Linked DNA regions of Homo sapiens. The protein of the gene in region 3 interacts with the protein of the main gene of each other region in a biochemical or structural test. Each region holds a gene or a part of one and is shown on either strand. Other genes may lie near its edges. The genes, in order: PPM1B, CDKN2B, CDK6 and KIF26B.

Evidence for each region.
Region 1: of the proteins of CDK6 (region 3) and PPM1B, one has a biochemical effect on the other in vitro, tested with the Homo sapiens proteins (one study listed by BioGRID).
Region 2: the proteins of CDK6 (region 3) and CDKN2B form a complex in vitro, tested with the Homo sapiens proteins (one study listed by BioGRID).
Region 4: of the proteins of CDK6 (region 3) and KIF26B, one has a biochemical effect on the other in vitro, tested with the Homo sapiens proteins (one study listed by BioGRID).

What each region holds. Positions count from the first base shown.
Region 1 is NC_000002.12:44,170,829-44,179,269, reverse strand, and holds part of PPM1B (protein phosphatase 1B), read right to left. Parts: intron 1-8,441.
Region 2 is NC_000009.12:22,001,096-22,006,439, reverse strand, and holds the end of CDKN2B (cyclin-dependent kinase 4 inhibitor B), read left to right. Parts: intron 1-192; coding exon 193-453; 3' UTR 454-3,537; downstream 3,538-5,344. UniProt on the Homo sapiens protein: Interacts strongly with CDK4 and CDK6. Potent inhibitor. Potential effector of TGF-beta induced cell cycle arrest.
Region 3 is NC_000007.14:92,825,960-92,834,400, forward strand, and holds part of CDK6 (cyclin-dependent kinase 6), read right to left. Parts: intron 8,001-8,441; exon of another isoform or gene 7,844-8,000; intron 7,732-7,843; 5' UTR 7,365-7,731; coding exon 7,132-7,364; intron 1-7,131. UniProt on the Homo sapiens protein: Serine/threonine-protein kinase involved in the control of the cell cycle and differentiation; promotes G1/S transition. Phosphorylates pRB/RB1 and NPM1.
Region 4 is NC_000001.11:245,157,535-245,165,975, reverse strand, and holds part of KIF26B (kinesin-like protein KIF26B), read right to left. Parts: intron 1-8,441. UniProt on the Homo sapiens protein: Essential for embryonic kidney development. Plays an important role in the compact adhesion between mesenchymal cells adjacent to the ureteric buds, possibly by interacting with MYH10.

The DNA.
Region 1 (8,441 bases), on a different chromosome or scaffold from region 3:
AAGAAAGAGAGGTTTAATGGACTTTCAGTTCTATGTGGCCAGGGAGGCCTCATGATCACTGCTGAAGGCAAGGAGAAGCAGGTCACATCTTACATAGATGGCAGCAGGCAAAGAGAGAGCTTGTGTAGGGAAGCTCTCCATTATAAAACCATCAGATCTCATGAGACTTACTCATTATCATGAGAACAGCACAGGAAAGACCTGTCCCCATGATTCAATTACCTCCCATGGGGTCCCTCTCAGAACACCTGGGAATTCAAGATGAGACTTGGGTGGGGACACAGCCCAATCACACCATTTAATATTTTTTAAAAGAATGCAAAATATCTAATTAACTTCATTGTTTATATATTGAATCATTTTGGAAATACTGGATTAAATAAAATACATTACTAAAATTAACTTTGCCTATGTCTTTTTTATTAATGTGGCTACTAGAAAAATTTAAATTACCTTACATTTATATAGGACAGCACTAAATTAAAACAACAGAAACTTTTGGCTGGGCATGGTGGCTCATGCCTGTAATCCCAGCACTTTGGGAGGCCATGGCGGGAGGATCACCTGAGGTCAGGAGTTCAGACCACCCTGGCCAACATGGTGAAACCCCATCTCTACTAAAAATACAAAAAAATTAGCTGGGTGTGGTGGCAGGTGCCTGTAATCCCAGCTACTTCAGGAGGCTGAAACAGGAGTATCGCTTGAACCCAGGAAGTGGAGGTTGCAATGAGCCAAGATTGCATCATTGCACTCCAGCCTGGGTGACAAGAGCGAAACTCTGTCTAAAAAAAAAAATATATATATATATATATATATACATATATAAAATACACCACTGGTAGGAGTATAAATTAGTATAGCAACATTGGAGAGAATTTTGGAAATATCTAGTTAGGGCTATAAGATAAGGATGGCCTACAGTTCAGCCATTTTACTCCCTAGAGAAATTCTCGCATATATATATGGCATGTAAATGGTTTTAGACCATTGATTAAAATTACAAAAATAATCCAAATGTCCTTCCAAAAAAGACTAGACAAAATGTGTTCTAGCTGCCTGTGGTGGCTCACGCCTGTAATCACAACACTTTAGGAGGCCAAAGGAGGTGGATCACTTGAGCTCAGGGATTAGAGGCCAGCCTGGGCAGCATGGTGAAACCTCATCTCTACAAAAAAAACACAAAAATTAGCCAGATGTGTTGGTGCACGCCTGTAGTTCCAGGTATTTGGGAGGCTGAGGTGGGAGGATCACTGGAGCCTGGGAGGGCAAGGCTGCAGTGAGCCAAGATTGAGCCACTGCACTCTTGCCTGAGCAACAGAGCCGGACTGTCTTATTAAAAAAAAAAAAAAAAAAAGAACTGTTCTAATCATACAATGGAATACTATGCAATATATATGCAATACTATGGAAAAAAGGGACTAGAACAAAAAAAGAACTGCAAAAATATTAAGTGACAAGAACAAATTGTAAAAAAAAAAAAAATTCTGTATATGGTCATGTACATACACCTCTTAAAACAGTACTATATGCTATTTAGAAATACATACATGTAGGCCGGGCGCGGTGGCTCATGTCTGTAATCCCAGCACTTTGGGAGGCCGAGGCGGGCAGATCTTGAGGTCAGGAGTTCGAGACCAGCCTGGCCAACATGGTGAGACCCCTGTCTCTACTAAAAATACAAAAATTAGCTGAGCGTGGTGGCACGTGCCTGTAATCTCAGCTACTCACGAGGCTGAGACAGGAGAATTACTTAAAACCTGAAGGCGGAGGCTGCAGTGAGCCGAGATCATGCCACTACACTCCAGCCTGGGCAACAAGAGCAAAACTCCGTCTCAAAAAAAAAAAAAAAAAGGTTATTTCACTTTCACATTGCAATTCCAAACACTCCAGAACAGATGAATAGAAACAAACTCAATTTCCTTAAGTTTAGGACTAGCAACCACCAAAGACTTAATAAAATGTTAGATTATATAAACAAAACCAGTTACAAGAGATAATTTTTTTAAATTCAAGTAAGGTTGTTTTTGGTTATTTTTAAATCTAAGATAGATGGCCAAATGTTGAACAACTTAATGAATCTGGTCTGAATTACAGTACTAAATTTAATATATTCCAAAATTTCAAGTTCTCTTGCATATCAGCATTTTGATAAAGTAACAGAATTACAAAAATACATTAAAAATGAAACTAGGCCGGGCACGGTGGCTCATGCCTGTAATCCCAGCACTTTGGAAGGCTGAGGCGGGCAGATCACCTGAGGTCAGGAGTTTGAGACCAGCTTGGCCAACATGGTGAAACCCCGTCTCTACGAAAAATACAAAATTAGCTGGGCGTGGTGCCGCAGGCCTGTAATCCCAGCTACTTGGGAGGCTGAGGCAGGAGAATCGCTTGAACTGGGAGGTGGCGGCTGCAATGAGCCGAGATTGCACCACTGCACCCCAGCCAGTTGGTTGATTTGCTTTAAAATTAAAAAAATCAATCTTGATTCACTTTAGCAATGAAGATCAAATGAAACTGACTCATAAATGAAAGCACAAGACCACCAAGCATTAAAATAAGAACAAAAAGATGAAAGATCTTTTATGCTTAAGTTTGCAATGTTTGTATAAACTGAAGAAGAGGCCTCTTTACCAAACTGGTTCAGTAGGAAAGCAATAGAAAGAACAGAAAGCAAAAATTAAGCACCTGCTTCACACATCTAAGTGCAATACGCCCATCTCACATGCAGAAAAAACAAAGGCACGACGTTAAGTAATACAACAAAGCTATGGAAGGAGAAGCAGTGATAAATATATAGACCAAGTTGTGCACAATAAACCAAGAGACAAATTGGCTCCATTAGCCATCTTTGCTAAGAGCACAAAAGTAGCCATTACAAATCAGTACCAGGCACTATTGGTCAACCACTAATCCTTCAGCTATACTCACGTAAGAACAGAAAGCTTTTTAAACATAAATGACAACATATATTTTATAGGTATATCCCAATTATTTAAATCAGACTTAAAAAATCCTGTTCACCCTTCTCCTATTGTTCCACCTTTACTCCCATCCTCCTTTCCAGGAACTCATCTATCCAAGGATGTACAGTAAATGGAAACACCTGAAGGCCCCAAATTTCCCTCATGTCTGTCTAATGCAGGGATCTCTTTTTCTCTCTTTGGGTCATCTTTTAATCTTAAACCAGGCAGGGCATGGTGACTCACGCCTGTAATCCCAGCACTTGGGGAGGCCGAGGCAGGTGGATCATGAGGTCAGGAGTTCCAGACCAGCATGACCAACATAGTGAAACCCCATCTCTACTAAAAGTACAAAAATTAGCCAGGTGTGGTGGTGCATGCCTGTGATCCCAGCTACTCGGGAGACTGAGGCAGGAGAATTGTCTGAACCTGGGAGGCGGAGGTTGCAGTGAGCCGAGATCATACCACTGCACTCCAGCCTGGGTGACAGAGTGAGACTCCGTCTCAAAAAAAAAAAAAAAAAATCTCAAACCAATGTCTTTCTCTAAGGCACAACAATATTTCCTCTTTCCTCTTTTCAGTCTAGTTTTTATCCAATTACAGAAAACCTCTTCCTTTCCTTTTGTTAAAAATAGTAAAGCTCTAATCACAGCTTTTAAGTTTAGTGTACAAAACACACACACCCCAAATCTTCCACTCAAGTTTTTAAGCCAGCCACATAAGGAGTTCAGCTGTAATGTAAACTGTGAGTTGCTGGTTAACAGAATGCAAGATCGTCAACGACAAGGATTTGGGATTTTGTCTGTTTTGTTCAGATACTGGCATGAAATGGGGGCCTTTGCACACAGAAGGCACTCAGTGAACATAAGAATTGGCTGGAGGGTTACAGACTAAATACTATTAGACTGTTCTGAATTCTTTACTTCTCAGTGGGTTGGTAGCTCAGAGTAAATAAAAGCAGAAAGCCTCCCAAAGCTCAACAAAATCTCCTATATAATCTTAACATTTGGAGTGCTTTGAATTAATTATGTTCCCCCACCCCCACTTTTGTTTTTTTTGAGACGGAGTCTCACTTTTGCCCAGGCTGGAATGCAGTGGCGCGATTTCAGCTGGGTTGAACCTCCACCTCCTGGGTTCAAGCGATTCTCCTGTCTCAGCCTCCTGAGTAGCTAGGATTACAGGCACATGCCGCCACACCCAGCTAATTTTCTGTATTTTAGTAGAGATGGGGTTTCACCGTGCTGCCAGGCTGGTCTCGAACTCCTGAGCTCAGACAATCCGCCCACCTCGGCCTCCCAAAGTGCTAGGATTATAGGCGTGAGCCACCAGGCCCAGTCATGTCCTCTTTTTAAGGGACTAAGAAAGGCCACCTGTGTTCAACAGAAAATGCCATTTCCCCACCTCAGAGATAAATGCTTTAGTCAGAACAAGGAAAAGGAAAAACACTGCCCAAATAGGTTAAACACCCATGCTGACACTTCTAGATTCTCCTACTCATAAGAACATCCAGTAACCAGCCCTTTTCAATGCGAGGAGTGCTCTTGATACCTACAATCAAGAAAATAAAATGCGATTAGATTTAAAAATGAGTTGACATTACTCTCAGGCTTAAAAGCGCTTCGCAAGCCTTCAAACTCTTACAAATTACTCTACATATTATTGATCAGAACTGCTTCTTCTCTGGCAAACAACACTTATTCATTTGTTTTATTTTCTTGTATATTATACGTTTGAATCTACCTGATAACATAACTGCATTTTAAAAGTTTTCTATAAAAGACAAGGTTTTTTCCTATTTCTAGCACACAAATGTACTTTTCATTCACAACTGATTCTGAAGTGAAGGCCATTCTACGTAGACAATAATCACAGCAATCCTAGAGACAAGTCTTATCCTCCCTATATCACTACCAGTAATTGGTACCATCTCTAAGAGAAAGACAAGTTCCTTAATAGTCAATACATGGCTTCCAAAGTTTGTCTGTCTCCTCTAAGTATGAGATCGGATTTAACTGGATCTTCTTTTGTTCACAAGGATGCAAAACAATTTTCCAAGAAGTGTTATGTTTCTAAACTTTAAGATTTTTAATTTTCAAGAAATGAATCAATTTAAAGCTAAAAAATAGAATACTGATGATACTTAAACATTCTCCAAGAGAAAAGTTTGAATCCATTTTATATTTACAAGTTAATATTAAACTGTGTGATAAATCAAAAGTTTTAAATTAGTAAAGTGTGTTTTAAATGTTATAAACCATGTCAAATGTATAATATATGAACTAACAAATTAAAATACTACAATTGATTAAGCTACAAGGTTCTTGAGGTTAAACAAGTTATTACAAAGAGTATTATTATTTTTGTTTCGAGACAGGGTCTCACTCTTTCGCCCAATCTGGAGTGCAGTGGCGTGATCTTGGCTTACTACAACCTTCACCTCTCGGGTACAAGCAATTCTCCACCACAGCCTCCGGGGTAGCTGGGACTACAGGCATGTGCCACCACACCCGGCTAATTTTTGTATTTTTTGGTAAAGACAGGGTTTCATCATGTTGGCCAGGCTAGTCTCGAACTCCTGACCTCAAGTGATTCACCAACCTCGGGCTCCCAAAGTACTGGGATTACAGGCATGAGCCACTGTGCCCGGCCATGAAGAGTATTATTATAAAAGGTATATGTTATGCCAAGCAATAACAAGATATTGTAGATGTGATTAGTTATAGTAAAACAAAAAGAAAAAAATGTATTTAAGCACTCTTCTGTGTCATGGTTTACCATTAATTCAGAAGTAAAGTGTTTATGGTTGTTATTAAAGTTAAACCAAAGGGGAGAAATAAAGCACCCTGTAATTTGAAGGAAAACTACGAAGTATGAGATCTCGAGGGGCAAAAAAGAAATGAAAAAAGAAAACTAAAAAGAAAAAAAGTATATAAGTTATTGTACAGTATTTATGTTTCCTAGGATGTTATATGTTACTAAAAACTAAATCTCAAAATCTTTAAATACTCTGAGAAATAAATACACTATATAGATTACACTTTTGGAAAATTTTGTAACATCATCAAGAATTTAGTAAAGGGTTCTTTTCACCATAACGCTGATTCCAGTATCTGGTCTGTTAGTCTTTTTTGGCCGGCCAGTACACCTGGCTAAATTCTGTATTTTTAGTAGGGACTGGGTTTTACCACGTTGGCCAGGCCAGGCTGTTCTCAAGTGATCTGCCTGCCTTGGCTTCCCAAAGTGCTGGGATTATGGGCGTGAGCCACCACGCCTGGCCACGCTTGTTAGTCTTCTAGGTAGTCTTTAAGAAAAGGAATATGGATGGAAATGTTCAAAAGTGTCAATCATCTCAAATCAAATGGACACAAAGAGATTAAGTCACATCAGAATTTTTTAAAAAATAGAGGCGTGGTTTCACTCTGTCATCCAGGCTGGAGCAAACTGGTGCAATCACAGCTCGCTGCAGCTTTGACCTCCCTGGCTCAAGCGATCCTCCCACCTCAGCCTCCCAAGCAGCTAACTACAGGTGCACACACCACCAAGCCCAGCTAACTTTATTTTTTGTAGAGACAGGGTCTTGCTATGTTGCCCAGGCTGGTCTCAAACAATCCATCTGCCTCAGCCTCCCAAAATGTTGGGACAGGAGTGAGCCACTGTGCCCGGCCTAGAAACATTTTACTTGTAAAGATTCTAAAATGGCTTTAGCATACTTAAATTAATCCAAAAGATGAAAACCCATTTTTTTAACTCAATGTATTGATGTAAGTAAACACCAACAAAAACAAAGAAAAAATACACATTATGAAGCTCATGTACCTTTTTCTTCACCTGTTCTTGTTAGATCAGCCACTAGAAGCTGATGATCAGTTCTGTCATTCTGCAAATTTTATGACAGCCAACTACAAACTACAAAAATTAAATAGTTCCCAAAACTCTATTTCACCATCAATGTTTGAGTATAGCATAGTGAAATGTCAGTACACTTAACCATCAATTCTGCTAATATACGATACATTTTACAATAAAACTTTAAAGCTGCTAATATAATAGCAGTATTCCATTTCATTCCAATTCTGAAATTAATTCAGCAAGGGAAAAACAAAAAGAAATCAGGTACAGTGTGAAGAATAACTGAAAATTCAGGAATATCATACTCCTGAAAATTATCTTACCATAATCATGATTTCACATTTTATGCTATTACTTGAATAAATTTTGCTATTATAATTTTGGATTAAACAAACTTTTATTATTCTGATGCCACCAGTTATTTGTTTGCTAATTTTTACTAAAATCAGTGAATTGTGAAAGGCATATTTCACAGAAAATATAAAATACTGTATGTTGCATTTTTAAAAGCGAGAGTTAGAATTATACTACTTAACTACTTTCTATGCTAGGTAATGTCACAAAATACTTTAAAATAGTTACATATAAAAATATTCATGAAATACAGCTTTTTTTTTTTTTTTTTTTTTTTGAGACAGAGTCTTACTCTGGCACCCAGGCTAGAGTGCAGTGGCACAATCTCGGCTCACTGCAACCTCCACCTCGTGAGTCCAAGTGATTCTCCTGCCTCATCCTCCTGAGTAGCTGGGATTACAAGCACGCGCCACCGCACCTGGCTAATTTTTGTATTTTCAGTAGAGATGGTGTTTCACCATGTTGGCCAGGCTGGTCATGAACTCCTAACCTCAAGTGATCCACACGCCTCAGCCTCCCAAAGTGCTGAGATTACAGGCATGAGCCACCGCACCTGGCCTATATAGCCTCTTTTTAATGAATCACCACAATCACTAAGTGATACCGTGGCCAATTCTAAGCTTCCAAGACTGCCAAGACATAATCAGCATCATATTTTAATTCAAAAGATTCCATAAAAAATGTTTGTTATAGAAAAGATAACTTTCAACAAGAGCCACTTTTTCTGACCCTGTCAACCTGTGAATCAGCTGTTCTTAGAAGCACAGTTACTTGGACACTACACTATTCCTTCAGATGATGTAATCTTAAGGAATTTAGTAATTAGGTGAATTACTAACATAAAACAGTATTTACTGACATGACTAAATTGAAAGGCCTTTCACCTATTCCTAGAGTCTTCACAGAAATCAGACACCCAGTGTAAGAAAACGGTGTTGAAAGCTCTGCTGGTCACTTCAAAGAGAACAATCACTTCAACAAATCCAGAGGATAATGTACTAGAAACTGGGGAAATCTTACAGTATGAAAGCTCAAATAAAAATACTCGTGCTAATATACAGCAACAAAAAGAACCACTGCAGAAACTGTTGTAAGACTTCATGAGAGCAAAAACAAATGAAGAGGCGAAAACACAACAACCATTAAGACAAAAAAAAAGACAAAGAAGGCATTGAGAGAAGAAGCACAAAATAAAGATTATCCCTGAAAATGTGTGGACTAAAATATTCTGTTCTAAATACTTAATTTTAAAATTTCGATTAGAACAACACACTGTCC
Region 2 (5,344 bases), on a different chromosome or scaffold from region 3:
GAAGGTGGGGTGGGAAAGTGGATTGCATCAGCAAATGAAGAAACACCAGACATCAGAGACCTGAACACCTCTGCACTGGGTGAAAACTTTGCAATTAGGTGTTTCTTTAAATGGCTCCACCTGCCTTGCCCCGGCCGGCATCTCCCATACCTGCCCCCACCCTGGCTCTGACCACTCTGCTCTCTCTGGCAGGTCATGATGATGGGCAGCGCCCGCGTGGCGGAGCTGCTGCTGCTCCACGGCGCGGAGCCCAACTGCGCAGACCCTGCCACTCTCACCCGACCGGTGCATGATGCTGCCCGGGAGGGCTTCCTGGACACGCTGGTGGTGCTGCACCGGGCCGGGGCGCGGCTGGACGTGCGCGATGCCTGGGGTCGTCTGCCCGTGGACTTGGCCGAGGAGCGGGGCCACCGCGACGTTGCAGGGTACCTGCGCACAGCCACGGGGGACTGACGCCAGGTTCCCCAGCCGCCCACAACGACTTTATTTTCTTACCCAATTTCCCACCCCCACCCACCTAATTCGATGAAGGCTGCCAACGGGGAGCGGCGGAAAGCCTGTAAGCCTGCAAGCCTGTCTGAGACTCACAGGAAGGAGGAGCCGACCGGGAATAACCTTCCATACATTTTTTTCTTTGTCTTATCTGGCCCTCGACACTCACCATGAAGCGAAACACAGAGAAGCGGATTTCCAGGGATATTTAGGAGTGTGTGACATTCCAGGGGTCGTTTGCTTTTCAGGGTTTTCTGAGGGAAAGTGCATATGAAATCCTTGACTGGACCTGGTGGCTACGAATCTTCCGATGGATGAATCTCCCACTCCAGCGCTGAGTGGGAGAAGGCAGTGATTAGCACTTGGGTGACGGCAGTCGATGCGTTCACTCCAATGTCTGCTGAGGAGTTATGGTGAACCCACAACTTAGGCCCTAGCGGCAGAAAGGAAAACCTGAAGACTGAGGACAAAGTGGAGGAGGGCCGAGGTGGGCTTCAGTAAGTCCCCGGCGGCGCTTTAGTTTGAGCGCATGGCAAGTCACATGCGTAAACGACACTCTCTGGAAGCCCTGGAGACCCTCGCCCAACTCCACCAGATAGCAGAGGGGTAAGAGAGGATGTGCAAGCGACGACAGATGCTAAAATCCCTGGATCACGACGCTGCAGAGCACCTTTGCACAGGATGCTGGCCTTTGCTCTTACTACACTGAGGAGAGATTCCCGCGGGTTCCGCAGGCAGACTACACAGGATGAGGTGGTGGAGTGGAGTGAGAGCAATTGTAACGGTTAACTGTAACGTTTTCTTTCACACACACACACACACACACACACACACATGCTAGGATGCGGAAATCCCCTTATGACTTGCTACTTTTTGATTTTGTGATATTTTGTACTTTTTAGTTGTTCAGCAACTGTCTTATTTAATGGGGAGATTTTAAGTAACATAACTAGTGGCTCTCAGTTAAAATGTGAGGAAGAACTACAGCTCTTAAATGTAGCAATGGCACTGTTGCAAACTCAGTGCAAACGCCTAGATTGCTTTCTTCTTAACCTATTTATTTCTTTGTTAAATTTTTCTGATTGTTTCCTTTATAGAGTGTCTCAGGGTGCAGAGGTCAGACTAAGAAATATTCCAAATGTCTTTTAGAAGATAGATGCACTTATGCAGTAAATTATCTTGGGATAGTTCCCAAAAGATTGCTGAAAAAGTAGATTGAGTATAAAAACTTGAAAATATATGATGGCTCGTGGGATGTCCTACTATCACTGAACAAACTAAAGGTGCACTGCTTTGGGATTTAATTTCCAGGGTTGCTTGATCATTATATCATTGGAACAACTGATACTTCACTACTTTAATAAAGAATTAACAGAGATTGAACTCCAAGAGGTGGGTAATTTGGTTTAAAAATACATGTTCATGGGTTTACCACTAACTCCTGAGAAATGTTAAAGGTTCACAGGGGTTCCCTTCTCTCAATGTTTGTAATAATTGCTCATAAGCAATACCAGCAATTCATAAAAACTGCTTACTTATGCCATAGAAAATTAAACACAAAGTGTATACATGTATTATGCTTCTAAATGCTCATTCTACCAGATACACATTTAAAAGAGAAAAAAGGAACAGAAACAAGTCATTTGAGAGTGGAGACTTATAAGAAGGAGTACATTTGAGTTGAATACACAAATCTTTACTTCTCTACCAATTCCTATTCCCAAAATGAACATATTACTGGGGAAAGTTAGTTGAGAATCAGAGCATATGTTATTGGGGAAAGGATATGTTTATTGACACATAATCTGTACCAGGTATGCATTAAAATATATTTGTTAATTTAATATTTAAACCTGAGAGATAGGTATTGTTTCCCAGATGAGGACAATGAGGCAAAGAAATATCAAGTAACTTGCCAAAGGTTACAAGATATTCATTCCATGGATGCACAAAGAAGTGCATCTAGTTCCACAGCTGATTATGGTTGTCTTGCTTTTCTTCCCATTGCACCAGCTTGTCCTCCAAAATCATGAATGATACACATGAAGATAACTTTTTTTAAAAAAAAGCAGAAATACACAATGATCTCCCTTGTAAGCTCCTAAGGTGGCTTTTCTTTCTCTAACTTCTAGTAAATATAAACGGTTTGTTTGAAAACTATTTTAAAATGTCAACAATATGGAGAATAACCCCCCCCAACACACCTATAAAAACCCAAATTTTTGGAACAAAGATAATGGAACCTCCATTTTCAAACTGAAGCACAGGGACAGAAAATATATTTCTAGTTATCACTTAAGCACTCAATCATTAGAGGCTACAAGAATAATATTTTTAAAGTTACAGTATTTTACAATTATTAGAAAACATTCTATATAAAAGAAGTCAGTTGATACTTTAAAATCTCCCATTTGGTTTATAAAATCCCTTAATTTGACCTCTATATCTTAAATTCCAAGATGTTTAAATTTGCTAGTTGCATTATACTGGGTCATGAAAAATTATCCCTTGAAATAGATATGAAACATGTTACTTCATTTCTGGTTTAAATAACTTGTGGAATCTTTCCTAATGACAACCTGATATTAAGGGAAACTAAAGAAAATGTTATTGTGGATCCCACAGTACTATATTACACTGTTTTTTTTGTTTGTTTTGTTAGTTTTTTTTATTTAAAGCAAACCTCAAACATTATTGGGTATCAATTACCACCTGGTTGTATTGAAATAGTAACTTATCAATGCCATGTAAAAATTAATTCCATTTTCGAAGCCACCTGGCAGACAGGTTTAGCTGTTTCATCAGCAGCCTAATATATACTGTTAAATTTGTTAAGGATTTCACTTTGAAGGATACATGCAAAACATATAGTTACTATTTTCATGAGTCCTGCTTCTAGCTCCATTGTGGAATACAGAAAATTAAATATACCTGTTAAGTTCGTATCTAAACCTAAGACATTACCAAGGTTTGTACAAATTCTACTACCTGACATTTATTCCAAGAAGATCTGGAAAGTTAAATAAATTTATAAATTTAATAACATTCATTTGGCTTCATTTTTATCTTTTATTTTTCACCTAAGTGGATGAATTTTTTAAAGGGTGTTTTGCTGTTAAAGCAAAATCTATGTAAAATTTCCTATGCCTTAAATGGTTAAAATTAGTAATTTCATAACTAAGGAATGAAACAGTTTCAAGAGGAGAGCTCGAGACTGATAAAACCCCAAACGCCTCTGGGAAAATGTATACTTAGGAATACTTTCATGATATTTTATTTCCCTAATATGGCAAGCACAATATTGTGACCAGCACCAAATAATTTATCATATGAAGCTAGGTAACTGATCTTCAGCAAATATATACAAAAACTAATTTCATTTACACTTACACTGAGATTGCCCTCCCTTTTTTGAAAATATTAACACACTGTGTGCATTGATATGTAATAGTCAGTAGGGTTTTTTTTTCTTTTTGCTGATTCTATAATTACCCCTCAATTATTTTAAACAGTAAAACATATACTCATTTTATGCTTTACCAGAGATGGATTTTTTAAATCATAGAGCATAATTTTTACAATGTTCAATACATTGCCACTCTATCAAAAGTGGAGCAAGTAGAACTAATGATATGCAAAACTTAGAGACATTATCTGAAGAAGCACTCATGTGAACTACCTACTGGGGCAAATGTGAAAGCCAGTATCTTCTAAAGTACAGTGAGGTCTGCCCTCATGTTTTATGTCAGCAACTAATCATAACCAAATTCTGACACGTTTACTAGATTTTCAGTATTAACAGAAACTGTCTAGTTATTTGATGAAAACTTGGAGAATAATGCTTAGGTTGGTGTAGTTCACAGTGTTCAATTACTAAGCTACAAAGAGATACCTAGATACACAATCACACATATATGAAAATAAGACAATTTTAATTTTAGAAATTACTTAAAGGGGCAACAACAGTTGAGCCTCAATACTTTCAATATTTTCCTATTCTACTTATAACGACAGGAAAGAAAGAGGGAATGAAGAAAAGTGAAACAAGGACTTGACTGGAAGATAGAAGACCTAGATTCCCACATTGGTTCCTTAACTAATTCAATATATGAGTGCTAACTCATGTAACATCTCTACTACTATCCTTCATACCTGAAAAGTTTCTATAAAACGTTTCTCAATTTCAGCTATCCAAATGAAATTACTCCTTTCTTGCCTCTTAAATTCCCTACTCAGAAGATTTTAATGTCATTCCTTGCGTAAGGAAAAAGAATACTTCATTTTACAGAAACACAGTAACTTTCACATATAGGCCCTATTAATTACATAATAAAAGAAAATATGAACTAATACTAGTGCCACTAATTAATAATATGTAATTGGCATGGATTGTATATTAAGCACAGTAATGAAAATTAATGTATGGGTCAAAAAGCACCAAGCCTGACTTACTAATTTGTGGTGTGAACTAAATGTAAAACAAAAGAGTTTGCTGGAAAAAGAACTAAGAACAATGTATTAAGATGACACACTGACTACCTCACAGCTATTCACATTACACTAGAAGTTTACAAAGGACCCCAAACACCTATTAATCCACTTCACACTCAGAAGCCCCTGGCATTAGACTTCCAGTAGATATATGGAGTCAGCTCTGGCACAGAAAATATTTTACAACAGAGTTCCACTCAAAACTTTAAGACCAATTACAGTAAGTAAACCATGTCTTATTTCTCATATTTGGCCTCCTCCCCAAATGCATAATCTATCTATCCTCTCATTATCAATGTTCTCTATTATGATGTTGTTGGGGCTACTTCCTCTGAACCCTGTCTTATGTGACCTCTGGGTC
Region 3 (8,441 bases):
GAAACTTCCTTTTTTCAGTATTTCCTAAATTATTTCCCAGGAATCCCAATAAGTGTAATCCAATATGCAGATCCGTTCTCCCTCCTTGACACTCCTTAGTATTAACATTATTTCACATGATAGAAATAATTCATATGGTGTCTTCCTTTATAACTGGACCCCTTTTCAATGATTTCACTCACTTGTTACGTATTCACCTTATATCCAATGGATACAGGATATAAACGAATGTAATCACAAGACACTCTCTGCCTTAAAGAGCTTACAAATAGGGTGTGAAAGAGTAGAGAGTCAGAAGAGGGCTGTCATGGGAGTTAACATTCCATCTTACATAACAGAAATAATATAAGGGGACAGATACAAGCTAAGTGCCATAAAGGAGGTCCAAAGTTACCAGGACTCAAAGGAAGCAGAAATGTTATCCAAATCGAGGTATTAAGGAATACAGAACAAAGAAAGTGACATTTGAGGTTGGCCCTGAAGGATAAGCAGAATTTCAACAGGTGGAGAGTGGTGCAGGAGAGGTACCAAGTGCACATTCAGAGATCTGTTCAAATTAAAGTAATAGAGGTGGATGGCAAGAAATCCATTAGGGCAAATGGAGTAGTCCATCTGTCTGTAGGATACATGTTAACAAATACAGAGGAAGAACATGAGAATATCCTGTCAAAGCCAAAGCAAGTACAATATTGAAGATAAAAAATGCATAGTCAGGAAAAGTTTAAATATGAGTAAGTATTTGAAGACTCTTACTAAATAGACTTCACATGTGTATGCCTTACAGTTAATACCCACAGATCTCCCAATGTCAATAGTCCAAGATACTTGCTAATGCAGTATACAACTCTAAAACGATGAAAAGTGCTTATCTAAGGGGTTTAAAATTTCAATCAATCAGGAAACATATACGGGTTAACCAATGGTTATGGACACCATGTTATTTATGGATATAAAATACACAATCCTGGTTCTCAAGTCAGCAAACATAAAGTCACTAAACTGAAAATACTTTTACATCTCAAGGGATTTTTTTCTGGTATATCCAATGACCATCAGTCATCCTGTCTTACCAATGTTTAATATAAACCTCTGTCTGAATCTTAGCCATCCTCAATCAGTTTATATCTACAATGCATACAATCACAGAATAAAACTGTTCACTAACAGTGAGATAATTTTTTGCATTCATAAAACAACTCAAATTTTATTATTATAAAACAGATCAAAGGGGGTTGCACTAGGTTAAATCTAAGACTTCTTCCAATTAAAAAAATCCTTATGCTGTGATTCTAATTCTACTGAACTAAATCCTTTAGGAAGGCCAGAGAATAGGAATAATTTAAGTGGCTACTTAAATTACAAAGCCAGTAGATATCCAAATTTCGGCAAACTACTATAGACAAAGGAGATGGTCAAAAATGTTTAATAATAATCCTGACTCAAATGGACTTCCAGACTACAACTGTACACTTGCATAGATTCCTGCCACATGCCTTGCAGTCCCTCCGGTTCACCTCTCAGGCAAGAGCAGCTACATGTGCAGCTGGTAAAATAAAAATCAGGTATGGCAGCAAACTGGTGATATTCAAGAAAACTACCCAGCAGCTCTTGGAAAAATCTCTCTGATTGCTGGCCTGCCTGCTCCACCAAACCTAGCATCTATGGATCATCACTCAAATAGTGACCTTCATGTAAGTATGCTTGTTATCAACCACCGGTGCGTTTTCAGTGCTGCCTCCTGGATCTTGGACAAAGCCCAACATCATACACACTAACTTCTCCTGTTAACAATTCACTGACACCCAGATTTCATCTCTGCTGTGTTCTGTTACATCAAGAAGCTCACAATTAATTTACTTCCTATGAAGACAGAGCAACTCATCTGAACCTCATGAGAAAGAACAATAGTGTGATTAGTTCCTCAGAAGGCATGGAAAACACATATTTGCTTATGTGTCTGATGGTTATTATGCCATCTAATTTTTAAGTATTATGATGTTTTTATTTCATTAACCAGAATGTTACATAATGTGCCAGAGCCACATTATGTAATATTTCATTCATCAGACAAGTACTAAGTGTTTCAATTTTTCCTACTCCTCTTTGTCTAAAATGAATTCAATATTATTAATGAATTACCTGCATAATTTACCTGTATCATCATTTAACTATAGCTATTTTAAATTATTATAATTAATTTAAATTATCATAATTATAGCACAACTTCCTTAAAAGAAGAATTTACTGGAATAATACTCTTGTAGAGATATACTTCAGTATGGCATACTGCAGAATTCAGGAATTTACTGAATTTTTATTCATTTATCGTTATGTCATTCATTCCTGGCAAACTGTCACTTTTGTCTACATACAGTTCATTTTTTCCAAACTAGAAATGTACTCACCCGATTTAACTGCTTCCATCAAACAAACAAACAAAAATTGCTACTTAGTTTTAAGAACAAGTCAATAACTTTAAAATGGCATGACAGACAAGTAGCTTGACCTCCAGAGTGTCTTCCAACCCTAATATCCATGGTTTTACAATGATAGGCTGCATGTATGCTGTGTTTCCTTCTTAAAAAACTTTCCTAAGAAATCATTAATAGTGAGACATTTGTTTTTTTAAAAAAGAAATAATTTATTTTTAATAGGAACCTATTTGCATAGATATTCATTTACCCATGTCTTAAACATAGGAAAATATCCTCAAAGATATTCAAGTTTATACAAGTTTTCCTCTTATAGACCTTTTTTGTCCTTGATTCCATAGAGAGATTCTAATAATTCTATGTTGATAGTGGTTGTATAAAAGGGATATAACTGCAATGTCAAAAATTCAGCATTATCAAGTTCTTCTGTAGGAACAAAAAATGAGCAGAATACCATTGTGAAAATGTTTATTTACTAAACAACCTTGAAAAATCAGAAACTTTTCAAGGAACTCTCAGAGACAGAAAGAACAAACATACTTTTAACATACTGATATTTAAAAGGAGAATTAAACTCCTGCTTTTCCTGCTTTTATTGAAAAAAGCCCTAGTAAATGTATTATTCAACCACACAAATAGCAATTTTATTCAGAAGGATTCTCATGAACTAATCCAATTGAAGACCTGGCTTTACAGAGTCAAATATGTCATGTTTCTTTTACCCTGTTAACAATTAGGTTTTCCAGAGAAAATCACATTTTTACTCACCTTTTATGCAATATATTACTAAGATCTTTAAAAAAGAGAGAAAATTAGAAAACTCTCCTTGAATAATCATTAAGCTTTACAGCCTTTTCTTTGGGTTTTTTGTTTTGTTTTTAAAGCAGTGACTATTCTAATTATAATATTTAAACATCACAAGTTTATTCACTGATATGTAATGACTTTTAGTTTCCAGAGCCAATACTTGAATTTGAATTGCTTTTACTGTTACACTAATAAATATAATCCCTAGAAACAATACAGGTAAGCACTGGCTTGTATCTTTCTTACAGCACATGATCCTATCATGTATCAGGGTTATGGTGATCATCTTATTCCTTCAAACATGGGAAGAACTGCTTCAGGAGAGTAGCTAGGTATGATTTACCCTGGTATCTTTCCCAGCACCTAGCCCCATGGTTTTTAAAGCATATGCCCTTCCTAAATCCTTTTTGAATAAATGGAGCTCAAATGTTCACTTATATTAGCTATGTGTCAGTATCTCATATAGATCAATCCCTATGTTAGGGAGGTAAAATTTAATCTTCAAAAAGCACTTGATTCTGATTAGCCTTTTGGTTATGTTGCCTACTCAATCAGGAAATTCCTGGTAACCGAATTATCAGAAATATCAGTTGTTCTATAAAACTGGTTAGGTTAAGTATAACAAAACAAGGCAATTAAAACAAAGATGAGTAAATTTTTAAAGAGAAGAAAGAACTGCTCATCTCATTACAAGGCAAGTTCTACAAGTGCGGAGACTTTTCCAGGCTTGTTCATTGCTATATCCCCACCTTCTAGAAGAGTCTGGCACATAGTGGACCCTCAGTAAATATTTGGTGAATGAACAGACTGCTGACAAAACATGCTATAATTTTATCTCTATTGTTTTTAGTTCAGGCTGTTCAAACAGGATCCATTTGTGCAGTGCAGAAACTCCAATACAGGTTCACAGTGAAGTCCTATTCTGGCAAAGGTTCCAGGATTTGGGATTACCAAATGTAAAAAAAGAGTAAATTTACTTCCCAGACACTCACTGGCTGATCAGGCGAGGGCCTGGGATACATCAAATGCAGGTAAGCAAGAATTTCAAGTCATTATCCCTGTGCATGCAGGCAGTACCAGTGCCAGCAATAACAAGTCAGCTTTTCTGGCAAATCCATCAAAATTAAATCTTAAACTTTTGAAAAAACTAATATGTTTATTATGCTCCTGTTAGCTTAGAGGCTTAACTATCTGTGGGGGAGGGCCTATAATTATGATCAATTACTTATGACTTGAAGGTACTTATAAAAGCATCTGCCCTTTTAAGAAACCATTAAAGAACCAGGCTTAAGACTGTAAAACTAATCCCAGGGGCAATAGTAAATCACAGGTTTGGGGACCCAACTTTGACAACTCTCCCTTGGAAAGAAAAGAATTGCTGTCAACTGTCCTTATTTCCTGACCCTGTCTGAGCAAATATTCGCAGCCTCTAAAATCCAGAATTCTTAGTCTGGCCAAGCAAGTCATGGGGACCAATGGTTGTTTCAAGGCAGAGGCAGAAGAGAAGAAACAGGAAGGAAACAAAAAGGGAATGAAGATCTGTAGCTCATGAGGGTGACATCATCAATAATTTCCTCAAGTATCACTGAATTTCATGGCTCGTGACTGAGAGTCTTTTCTGACATCTTACAGGCTAATTATCCTCAAGGATCTTCTTGGTTCCAGAGCCTGTAATGTCTGGGTTTGAATATGATTTGTTCTACAAAAAAGGTCAGGTGAATTGACCCCTCCCTGTGAAGCTGCTCCATGGCAAGAGACCATCAATCTGCTGAAACGCAAACAATCCTTTAGATATCTGAAGTACTTTCAAATTTACAAAGTGCTTTCACATACGCCATCTCATTTTATTCTCACGACTTTAACAGGTAGGTGCCATCATCACCTTAACACGTAAAAATAATTTTAGAAAACAATGCCTTTGTCTTCAGTTCATAAGAATATCCTCCTGAAATTCACAGTACAGAATCCAAGTCATGGGTCAGTTAGAAACGTCTAGAAACACATCAATCTCAGGAGGATAAATCAAGAGAATAGGATGGATCAGACAAAATCTACAAGCACAATGGCAGAAAGTGTGCCTCTGGTATAAGAATGGCGTAAGCTTTGTAAACAATAGTGTTATACAGGGGTGCCTCTGTAGTACCTCTACGTTTGGAAGGACACTATTCATTCATATACATGATAAGCACCCTTAACTGGATACTCCATAGGTAACAGACAAAATAAAACAAGAACTTCCGTCTTAAAATTGTAGTGGTGGAATTCATCCTTCGGGATGTATTAGGTGATTCCCCTAGGACGACAGCTGAGTTACAGGGGGCTAAATATACCCTCCCCTTTTCCCTCCAATATCACAAAGAGCCCCAAAAACGGATTTTGTTGTTTTTAACAAATAAAATACACATGAAAAAAAGTCATCTATAGGTTTTTATATATAATCTCATCTTCTAAAACACTCATTCTCCTTCACTAGCTAGGCCGAGGTATAATGCGGTCTTAACTTTATAACCATTTACTGCCTTATTTATATATTTATGATTCTTTGATGCCTTCTAGCTTGAGTCTAAACTGCGTTGGGAACAAAGCACCGCACAAATCACCAGCCTGGGATAAGAGGAGACAAGTTAAAACCTCCCAAGAAGATTCTGTAGATATTTGGTCTCTCTGAGTCTGTAGAGAGTTTGGTATTTCAAAGGTCAGTCTTGGGTCTCTCCACTTTGATGACTAATGTTAAATTGTTTGACTTTTTACAAAAATATTTAGCTGTGCTTATTTACATCATTTCATCCTCAGCGCACACAGTAGGCATGTATTTGTTGAACAGAAGCCCTAAATGGATGAGAAAAAAGATATTTCTGCTACACATTTTCTCAAGATCGAGAAAGGTAAAATCACAACCCAATTTGCAGAAGTTTCTAGGCATTCCTTTTCAATGTAAAGCTATGCATCTCTGTTTAAAAAAGAAAAGGATGACACAACCAAACAATGTCAACCACACAATGGGGAAATTCCAGGATCACTAAGAAAACACCATTATCCTAAGTCACACATTTTCATTTAATACTGGTTACCACACAGGAGAGAGTAAGAACTGCTGTCTCCCCACCCACTCGCACAATCCATCTGGGAAAAGCATGGGCAGAACATTTATGATCTAACCATACCACATCTTGGACTCACATTTAACCCTTTGGAGAATTAGTCTAAAGAGTATGTCCGCCCAGAGATATAAAGTAAAACAGACACAGGGATAACAGTTTTGGAAGAAATTTTTATGACGCTGTTTGAGATTGGGCATCAGCACTCAAACTCCTTAGACCACCAGGAGTCATTCTTACTACGCAACTTTAATAAAGAGAAACTGAGAGTATGACTGGCAAAAATATTATGATGTTTCTGCATCTTGTTAACCTGATTTACACTTGGCTCCACCCATAAAGTTCCCACTGATTATCACACGGCATCCTCATTCTCCAGTCTCACCTACTCTGTCTTTCAAAAATTCCCCAACGGCATGGCCACGAAAAATATGCGGGGGCTAGCGGGGCATGTCTCAGGTTGGCTTATCCTGTCCCTAAAACGCACCCACTTCCCCCAGACCCTCCTTCAGGGTGGGCAGGGAGAAAACGCTTCTAAGTTGCACAGCTGCAGGGAAGCCTGCTCAGGTCATGTTTTTTTGACTTGTCTTTCGGCTCGCTGTCTGGCAAGGTCACCGGCTCTGGCTCGCGGCTCTGTCGACAAAACTTAACTCTCACTCTGTAAGACCAACAGGTCGCGCAGGACCTCCCCAGTCGCCCTCTGCCCCGCACCTTTCTGGGCCTGAGGATTCCCGGCTCGGCCCTCCCCGCGCGCGCGAGGCCCCAGATGGCGAGGGCGCAGCTCCCTGGCTCACCTGACCACGTTGGGGTGCTCGAAGGTCTCCAGGTGCCTCAGCACCGCCACCTCGCGGATGGTGGAGAGCGGCATGCCCTCCTCGCCGGTCTGCACCCGCACGCGCTTCAACGCCACGAAACGGCCTCCGTTCTTCAAGTCGCGGGCCTTGAACACCTTCCCATAGGCGCCCTCCCCGATCTCCGCCACGCATTCGTACTGCTGGTCAGCGCGGCACAGGCCGTCCTTCTCCATGCCGCCTGGACGCCGCCCGCCGCGGCGCCGCTGGGGCGGGCGGGGGGTGCGCTCAACTAGCTGGCGGCCGCCGCTCGCCTACTCCGGGGCTCCCCGGAGATCGGTCTAGCTTTACTTGCTCCCCGCCGGCTCAGGCGCTCGGGCGCTGGGGCTTTCGCCGCTGCAGAAGCTGGATGGAGAGACCTCCCCGCGGGGCTGGCGTAACCCTGGTGCCGCCGCCGCGAAACTCCGCCTGCAGAGTCGCCGCCGCCGCCGCCGCCGGAGGAGCGAGCCGATCCCTCCTCTTCCCTCCTCGAAGCGAAGTCCTCAACACAGACACGATTACATAGCCTCTGCCCAAGCGCGTCTCAGTCCAGAATCATTGCACCTAAAGGAGGAGACGGGAGGATAAGAAGAAAGTGCAATCAGACAGCCCAGAAGCCTTCCTCGGGGTTCCTCCAGACTCCCCTCCTCCTCCTTTACGAAGCCTCCATCGCTACCCTCCGCGCGCTCCTGCCCTCTCCCAAGCCGCTTAATCCTTCCTGGTTCCTCCGAGAAAAGCGAAGTTACTTTTCTTTCCCTGCAGGGCTGAAGCCGTCTTCGCGCGGAGAGGTTGCAGGGGCCCCTCGGGGATGAGCGAGCGGCGCGGGACGCAGTGGAACGGGAGGGGGCGTGCCGAGCAGCCCAGAGTGTGCCGGGAGCGCGGGGGAGGGGAGGCGCCGGGCACGTCAATGTCACGGCTTAATATTTATCCCTATATCATTGTGTTGCGCCGCTACCCTCCCCGCCTCCTGAGGCCCGGACGTGCAGGGAGACGGGGTCCAGGGGTGCCGGAGGGCGTTCAGGGGTCGCGCACAAGCTGGAGCGGAAGGACTGTGGGTCCATCCGTGTGGGGCCGCAGAATGTGGGTGGGGGCTCCCAGGACCCTGTAACCCGATGCTGGGAGTGTGCGAGAAGGGGTGGTCAGACATCTGCTCAGAAATTGCTTCCTTTCTTTCTACTTTCAGTTTTTCTACGAGGAGACATTTAAAAACGACTCGCATACACAAATGGTCTTTTTGGGGTAAAGGAGTCTCGGTTGGAAACGGAATTCTCTCT
Region 4 (8,441 bases), on a different chromosome or scaffold from region 3:
GATCTCTTGTATCTCAGTGTCCTCAGCAACTCAAATGCTGCCTGAGATGTCCTCACCTCTCAATCTATTCCTGGACACAATGCCATTGGCTTTCTCCAGGGCACCAGAAATTCTTCCAACAAAGACATCCAATGACCTCCTCCTTGCCAGTTCAAAGAAAACCTCAGTCCTTACTTCCTTGACCTCTCCAGGGCATCAGACCTTTTGTCACCCCTATGCCCTGAAGCTCACTCCTTCCTCAGTTCCCATGACACTGTCTTCTCCTGGTTTTTCATCCCTCTTTTCTGGTCCCTCCTTCTTGGTCTGTCTTCTTAGCTCCTCAGGCCACTGGTCCCTTCGATGTCAATGGTCTCCACCACTTCATGTTCAGCTGTCTGTCGTCTCACCCCACACATCTGTGGAGAGCTCATGCCGTCTGTGGATTCCATCACCTTCTCTACGCTGACATCCCCCAGATCCATATCTCCACCTCAGAAGCCGCTCTAGAGCGCCAACAGGAGCCCATTGGACCATTCCACCTCAAGCTCTAGAGACCCCAATCAATTTAACATCCACAGCCATCCTCGAACACTGGGCTCACAATAACAAAACCCCTTCTCTGCCTGTATTCTTCATCTCCATAACTGGCAGCACCACCCACACACTTTCCCTGGCCAGAAACCTGGGAGAATGCATCATCTTTTCTCCCTCTGGCCCCGTATCTCAGCAGCTCCCCATGGCGGGTTTTCTACATATGATATGTGTCAGGCCGGAGCTGCCTCTCCCTTCCCTCTGTACTACCCTAGTTCAGTCTGTGTCATTCTTCACTCAAGCCACTGCAAGGGGCCTCCCAACTGGTCTCGGTGACACCACTCTTCCAACCCATCTTCTTGCTCATTCTCACAGCAATCTTTATTTTTTTTTTAAAGATGGAGTCTCGCACCGTCACCCACGCTGGAGTGCAGTGGCATCATCTTGGCTCACTACAACCTCCGCCTCCCGGGCTCAAGCGATTCTCCTGCCTCAGCCCCGAGTAGCTGAGATTACAGGTGTGGGCCACCACGCCCGGCTAATTTTTGTATTTTTAGTAGAGACGGGGTTTCACCATGTTGGCCAGGCTGGTCTCGAACTCCTGACCTCAGGTGATCCACCCGTCTTGGCCTCCCAAAGTTCTGGGATTACAGGCGTGAGCCACCGTGCCTGGCCAGCAATCTTTCTTAAATGCATATCTGATCATTTCACTCCCTTCATGAGTGCCCTCCAATGGCTGCCCACGTCCTACAGGATAAAGTCCAGCCTATAGCCTACAAGGCCTTTCATCCTCCATCTGCCTCCTTTCCAGCCTGTCACGCACTCATACAAATACTGTGTATGGTGACCATGTGCGACTTCAGTTCCCCATATGTAGGGGGCACGCATCACCCCTTCCTGGCCTATGCCTGCCGTTTCCTGTGGCTGGAACGCTTACGCTTCGCCACGTTCCTTGCCTGTCTCTGACACTAGACTGTGAGTTGCTCCAGGGCAGGAATTTTAGTATTTTTCCTATTTGGATTATAATGTGGCATAGTACTAGAACTGGCACATAAACAGGAATCAAAAATGTTCATTGGCATATGAATATCAAAGCAAAAACAATAAATGAAATATTAGCAAATTGGATCCAGAAGCATATCTTTCAAAATGCACTGTGGCCAAGTGGGGTTTATTATGGGAATACAAGGATGGTTCACTATTAGAAAATCAATAATAATAACTCACAATATTAACAAATCTAAGGAGAAAAATTGCATGATTCTCTCTCTAAATACTGAAAAGACATTTGGCAAAATATAATACCCATTCCTAATAAAACACTAAAGTAGGAATTGATGGATATTTACTTAACTTTAAAAAATATAGACAGATCTCAGTCCAAAAGCCAACATCTTAATAGAAAAAAATATATACACATGCCCACTATATCGCTATTATGTAACATTGTGTCAGGAGTACCAGCCAATGTAACAAAAAAGAGAAAACACTTAGAGGCATAAAAATAGCAAAGGAAGAGAGTAATGATATCTGTATTTGAAGAAGACAAAATTTTTTGAAAATCCAAGAGTACCAATTTTTTAAAAATCAGTGAATATAGTAGAATTTAATAAGGCGACGGGATATAAAACATGTAGATCAATATCCTTCACATAAATAATTATCAATTAAAAGAGATAATGAAAGTGAAGACTCCATTTACAATAGCAACAAAAGCTATAATACCTAAGAAAAAGTTTAACAAGAAATGTGCAAAGCCTATATGAAGAAACTCTTAAAAATTGCTAAAAAGTAGACTTGTTCAAATGAAAAGGTATTCCATGTTCTTGGGAAAGATTCAACACCATAAAGATGCCAACTATTCCCCCAGGTTAATGTATACATTCAACACGGTCCTAACAAAAAAAAAAATTGGAGTTAGGCAAGGAAACTCCTAGAAAAGAAAGGCACTATTTGAGGGAGAGAGAGCTAGCCCTGCCAAACATGAAAACATGCTACAGAGCTTCCATAATTAAAATAGTGTGGGCCAAGCGCAGTGGCTCACACCTGGAATCCCAGCACTTTGGGAGGCCAAGGCAGGCAGATCACTTGAGGTCAGGAGTTCAAGACCAGCCTGGACAACATGGTGAAACCCCATTTCTACTGAAAATACAAAAATTAGCTGGGCATGGTGGTCCGTGCCTGTATTTCCAGCTACTTGTGAGACTGAGGCGGGAGAACTGCTTGAACTTGGGAGGCGGAGGTTGCAGTGAGCCGAGATTGTGCCACTGTAACCCAGCCTGGACAACAGAGTGAGAACATTCTAGAAGATCCTGTAATAGGTCCAGATACAACTGAAAATTTGATTTATGACAATGGTGGTATCTTCAATTAATGTGAGAAAGATAAATTCTTTTTTTCACAAGAAGAAGTCTGCAAGTAAGAAGAATGTTTTAATAAAGTGGGGACAACTGGATAGACATTTAGAGAAAGATGAAATTTGATCTATATCTTTCATTTTGCACCAAAATAATCTCTCAATGGATTAGAGATCTAAATATTAAAAAGGACACTATTTAAATACTAGAAGAAAACATAGGTGAGTTCTTTGAGACCTGGAGGTGGACAAACATCTTTTTAACAATCACTCATTTCCAATTTTCTCAGATAGGCTCTGGAGCAGTTCCAAAGGCAATGGTAAGCCAATGATGGATACAAACTGAGTTGATATCTTGACAAATATTTCAAAAGTACATTAGGAATACAGGTGTATCCCCAGTCCTTTTGCATCTACACGAATGTACTTTAAAATAAGATATTTCTGCCTGTAATCCCAGCACTTTGGGAGGCCAAGGCGGGTGGATCACAAGGTCAAGAGATAGAGACTAGCCTGACCAATATGGTGAAACCCCATCTCTACTAAAAATACAAAAATTAGCTGGGCGTGGTGGCGGGCGCCTGTAGTCCCAGCTACTCGGGAGGCTGAGGCAGGAGAATTGCTTGAATCCAGGAGGCAGAGGTTGCAGTGAGCCGAGATCACGCCACTGTACTCCAGCCTGGGCAACAGAGCGAGACTCCGTCTCAAAAAAAAAAAAAAAAAAAAAAAAAAAAGATATTTCTGATGGGTGCATCTATAGGTATAAAAGAGCGATTGGGAGCACATTCTCAACAGTGCTCCTTCGCCACAATAACACCATAGACGAGAAACAGGAAAGAAAGGATGCTGATGAATAGCTTGTGACTGCAGAGAGTGGTAAAAAGGAAATTTGTCTTGTATTCCTGCAAAATGACCAAGAACCCTCCCAGACACCAGCCAATTTGCAATCTTTTTGAGGACAAAACAGAGCAGAGGTCTGGCCGCCCTGCCGATGGGGCACTGAAATGGCCGGCTGAAGAACTCTTCCTCGCAGAAGGTCAGGACGGGGCCCTCGGGCAGGGTTTTCTGTTCAGGAAGGGATGACAACAGGGTCTCCAATGGGTGCACGTAAATATAAGGAGGTTCCTTCCCCCCGCCCCTTGCATTCCAGCCAAGACAATTCCTCAACTCAGAACCTGACAGTCTCACATACTTTCCCCCAACCTCCCCACTCACTGGAAGTAAAATTCTCATCTGTGAGCCCAGGAAAAATAATAACCATCTCGAGCCGGTGCCTCTCACTCAGTCAGTTCTACTCACAGGGACCCTTAACAGCTTCTAGGGGAAAGTGTGATTGGATTTCTCTGTTCCTTGCATATTTTTTCTTCATGCTTCCTTCTATGATCTTAACCACATCAAGCACTTGGAATTCCAGGGTAAAAAAGAAAAAATCACGTTCATCTTCATTTTAATATATGAGATTATGTGTGTGTGTGTTTCAGTGTAGTTCGTGGTATGTAGGACAATCGTTGTTAGCCATTTATTACATATTATTATTATTACTATCATCGCTATTGTTGGCCCACTCATGGTACAATCTGTGATATAATGCCAAATAACAAATGGCAACTGATGTTGCCTCCATTTTAATTGACTTAATCCTTCCAAATGCTGACAAACTACCAGCCTCAGCCATTTAAAAATCACATTTCTAATGTAGTAATCCTATCTGCAATGGGTGTGGAAGGAATTATTGCAGGCCAGGGATTTTTGCAAAGTGAATTAAGTCACTATAAAAACTGACCATGTTGCTTCACAATTAATAGTCTGGTAGAATGAACTGCCATTATTCCACAGCTTGCTAAGCCTTAAAAAGAGATTACTGCTCACATGTCTCTCCTGGGAATGTTTTTATAAACTCCCAAAATGTTTCAGAAATTTTCAAATGATAAATGCTGTAGGACTTTTTCATGACTGCTATTATCTACTAACTGCTCCTTTATCTAAAATACTTCTGATATGAGAAAGACTCAAATGAAGCTTTTTGAAAATAGCCACATGTTCTTAGAAGAAAGAGAAGATTTCAGCTAGAAGTCCCTTATAATTAATAAGTACTCGAAATGCAATGTCTGTTTTATCCTATCTATAAAATGTTTTATGATGGCTTTTGGGGGACTTTTTGCGTCTAGTTATTTTTCCATACCCCTCTTTTGGAGCTGGCAAAATACAGAAATATGCATGTGGGGATATCTATATCTCCTCAAGTCTAGACTTACTTGGTCTCCGGCTATTTAGAGTCCACGTTTGGCGTTTTTAACCCCTATGACGCATTCCTTTCTTTCATCTCTGTGATTCCTGGCCACCCTTCTCAGTATGTCTGGCTAATCTTCCTGATATTTCTGGGGCATAAATGGACTCAGAATATCTGACTGAGAGACAATCAGATAGGAACATAGTTCTGCACTTTTTTTTTTTTACATAAAAGATTTTCTTTTATTGATATGGAAATGAACAGATGTCTGATAACCTTTTGCCAACCTGGAGCTTTACTGCTTACTCCAGGGAATTTCGTTGGGCTGTTGTTTCGTAGGACTTGCCCAGTCCATTCAAAAGTTCTGTCACAGATATCAGAATGATCTAGGCTAGCCCAAAATTGAGCAATTCGTTCCTTGGCCCCTATTTCTGGCTCAGTGCCCTGACTGTGTACAAAGCAGGAAAGATGCTCTTGCCATTGGACATGAAATGGTTTTGTATTCACACACTGGAAGGCTACAGTGGGTAAAAGGGCCATTCTCACTTAAAATCTCAACACTTTACACGTCCACATTCTTTTATCCGACCACTTCCACTCACCGGCACCAAAAGAGAAACGATATAAACCCAGTAAGTACTTTTTGTACTGATCAAGGTAATAAAAGTCAATCTGAGTGTTTTACAATCTGCCACCAAGCACAAACGTCTACTCACCAGGTAAGTTGCTATCGGAAAGGATGAATACAGAGTATCAACAGCAGAGCTATGTGAGCTCACAGCTGTCACTTCTACACGCCAGTCTTGAGATAGCCAAAAACAAAGTGTTTTATTATTAAATCTGCCTCCATCTCTTTCCAGAAAGCTCAGACTCGCTGCATGGAAAACCAAACTCATGATCATCCTTCCCTCTGAGCTCCATCCAATTCCATGTCTCCTCCTATTTCCTACCTCAGCCAACACTATCACCCACTCCGTTACGTTCAAATAATGTCATTTTCTACCATGAAGCCCTATCCTCCATTGGAGTGCTCAGAATAAGATGGTTCTTCTCAGGCCACCAGAGCCAGGCACTAGCTCCTGGAACCAACCAGATACCCGGAATGGGCTCTCTACTACTTCACCTCCCCTCCTTAACCAACTGTTCCAAAGACAGAACGGGGGATTCAATAGGGCTTGCTACCTACCAACAGGCACAGTGTGAGAACTCATATGGCAGCATGTTTAGAAAATATACAGATGAAATTAGAAACTGACAGGAGTAATATCTTATAAGAAAAACCTTAAATTCTGTAAAACATAAATCTAACAGAATCTTAGCTCATTAATAATCATCAACCCTCATATCTTTCTCTAAAGAATGAAAGCACTTTTCAGACCTTACCTTGGATCATTTTAATGACGTTTTAATAGTCTCATTCATTTTTTTCCTTAGGATATTAATAGGAAAGTTAAAAAGTAGAGAGGAAAACTAATTTACCCAATGTCACAAAGTAAATCAGTGGTGAAGAAGAACCAAAACCAAATCCATCCTAAAATATTAAGGTTCCTGGATGTGCTATTCTGCTTTTGACTTTTAAATATCTACCTAGGAGACATTTAATACCACCTAGTAGAATTTAACACTCTATTTAAGAAAATATTTCCCAAATGCAGGTAAGCATCTTAAGCAAATTACACAGATGATTTTTGTTAATTACTCCTCAAAAACATGTCTTTATCTTCCAGACTCTTACTCTTCAGAGCGAACTGAGCGAACTGCATGTTGGAGTCACAGTGACACCTCTTGTTCTAATGAAACTTAACTCCTTCTGTGCCTGAGGGCTACAGTGGTCCACAGTTTGTTCATTAATATTGCTCCGGGAAGAAGAAAAGTCTTATCCAAGTTACATGGCCTCCATCCATGGTACACCAGAGAACATGGCAACTGTTTGGCTATAAGGTTGCAAATGCTAAAGGTATAATGGAAATTGTACCTAAATGCAAGGTACAAATGCTTAAAACACACACCACACACACACACACACACACACACACACACAATTATTATTCACAAAGGCTTGCAGAAATTTTGTAGTTAAAATTGAGGCCCCACATCTCATTACTAACAATGAGCTGATGCAAAGCATCCTTCTTCCTGGCTGAGCCCTGTCTATGCCCTTGCACCAAATGTCACGCTTTACTGTGCTGCTTCACATATAAAACTCAGGCGACTGTGGTACTATGTGACATTCACGTATGCACTTAAAGTGATCCCCTGTGACTGCCCCCATGACTGCCAGGTCTTCTCTAGATGTCCTTGGATCACTCGAAGTCATTGTAGAGCATGGGGGTTCAGCAAATCCAGTGTTTCTTCTGGGGCCATCACCTCACTCTGACAATACAATCAGTTTACCAACAAGAGTTTTACCTTATCACATACATAAAATTGGCAAATATATTGAGCTGCCTCCCGTGACACTGTAAGTGAATGTTCCAGGCTGTTTCTATAAAAACAAGATTCCAGCTGGTCACAGGACTCCATAAAACATGATGGATGCGTATGAGTTTCAACATTTGTTTCCTCTGTAGATTTTCCTTCCCCTCCTCTTTTTTTAAATGAGAAGAGTGTATTTTGATCGGCCTTTGCATATAGGAACACCCAAAGCCACAATAAGCCTATTATAAGAATAGGTCCTCAAGAAAGGTCTAAAATAATTTGGTAGGCTGTAACGTATTAGGACTGCCAAATATCAGCTACTAGATCTTTAAGAACCAAGGTCCTTCCATCTTTATCAGATGCTCCCATCCAGTTCAACAACCTCACAGCACCCTACATTCCCTCCACAAATGTGAAGACATTGTGAACTGTGCATTTTGTGGTTGTTATCTGTATCCTCCACTAGAATCTAAGCTCCACGTGGACAAGGACTGCATGAATGGACCTGGTATTTTCATTGCTGTGCCTGACACAGTGCCTCGGATGGAGTAGAAAATCAATGAATATTGATGAAGGATCACGAGAGCAAATAAATCTGTGAATGAAGAAACGGTGTTAAATCGGAAGGTCTAGCACGCAAGAGCGAAATAAGCTTTTTGATTCCTTGAGATGTATCCTTGGGATGTCACGGCAGATGTATCAAACTACAAAAACGGTACACTGACAACCATCCACGAGTTCATTATTCTTGAGATAAGTTCTGCATTCATAAAACCAATTCTCCTGGTGGTCATTTCCCCCATTTTAAGTTTCACAGCGTCTGTGGGCATTTGTTGAATTTAACCCTTGCCTATGAAAACATCAACGTGTGTATCTGCATACGCAGGTTGGGCCAGCAGACGCAGTCATTCCTAAACGCCTACTCGA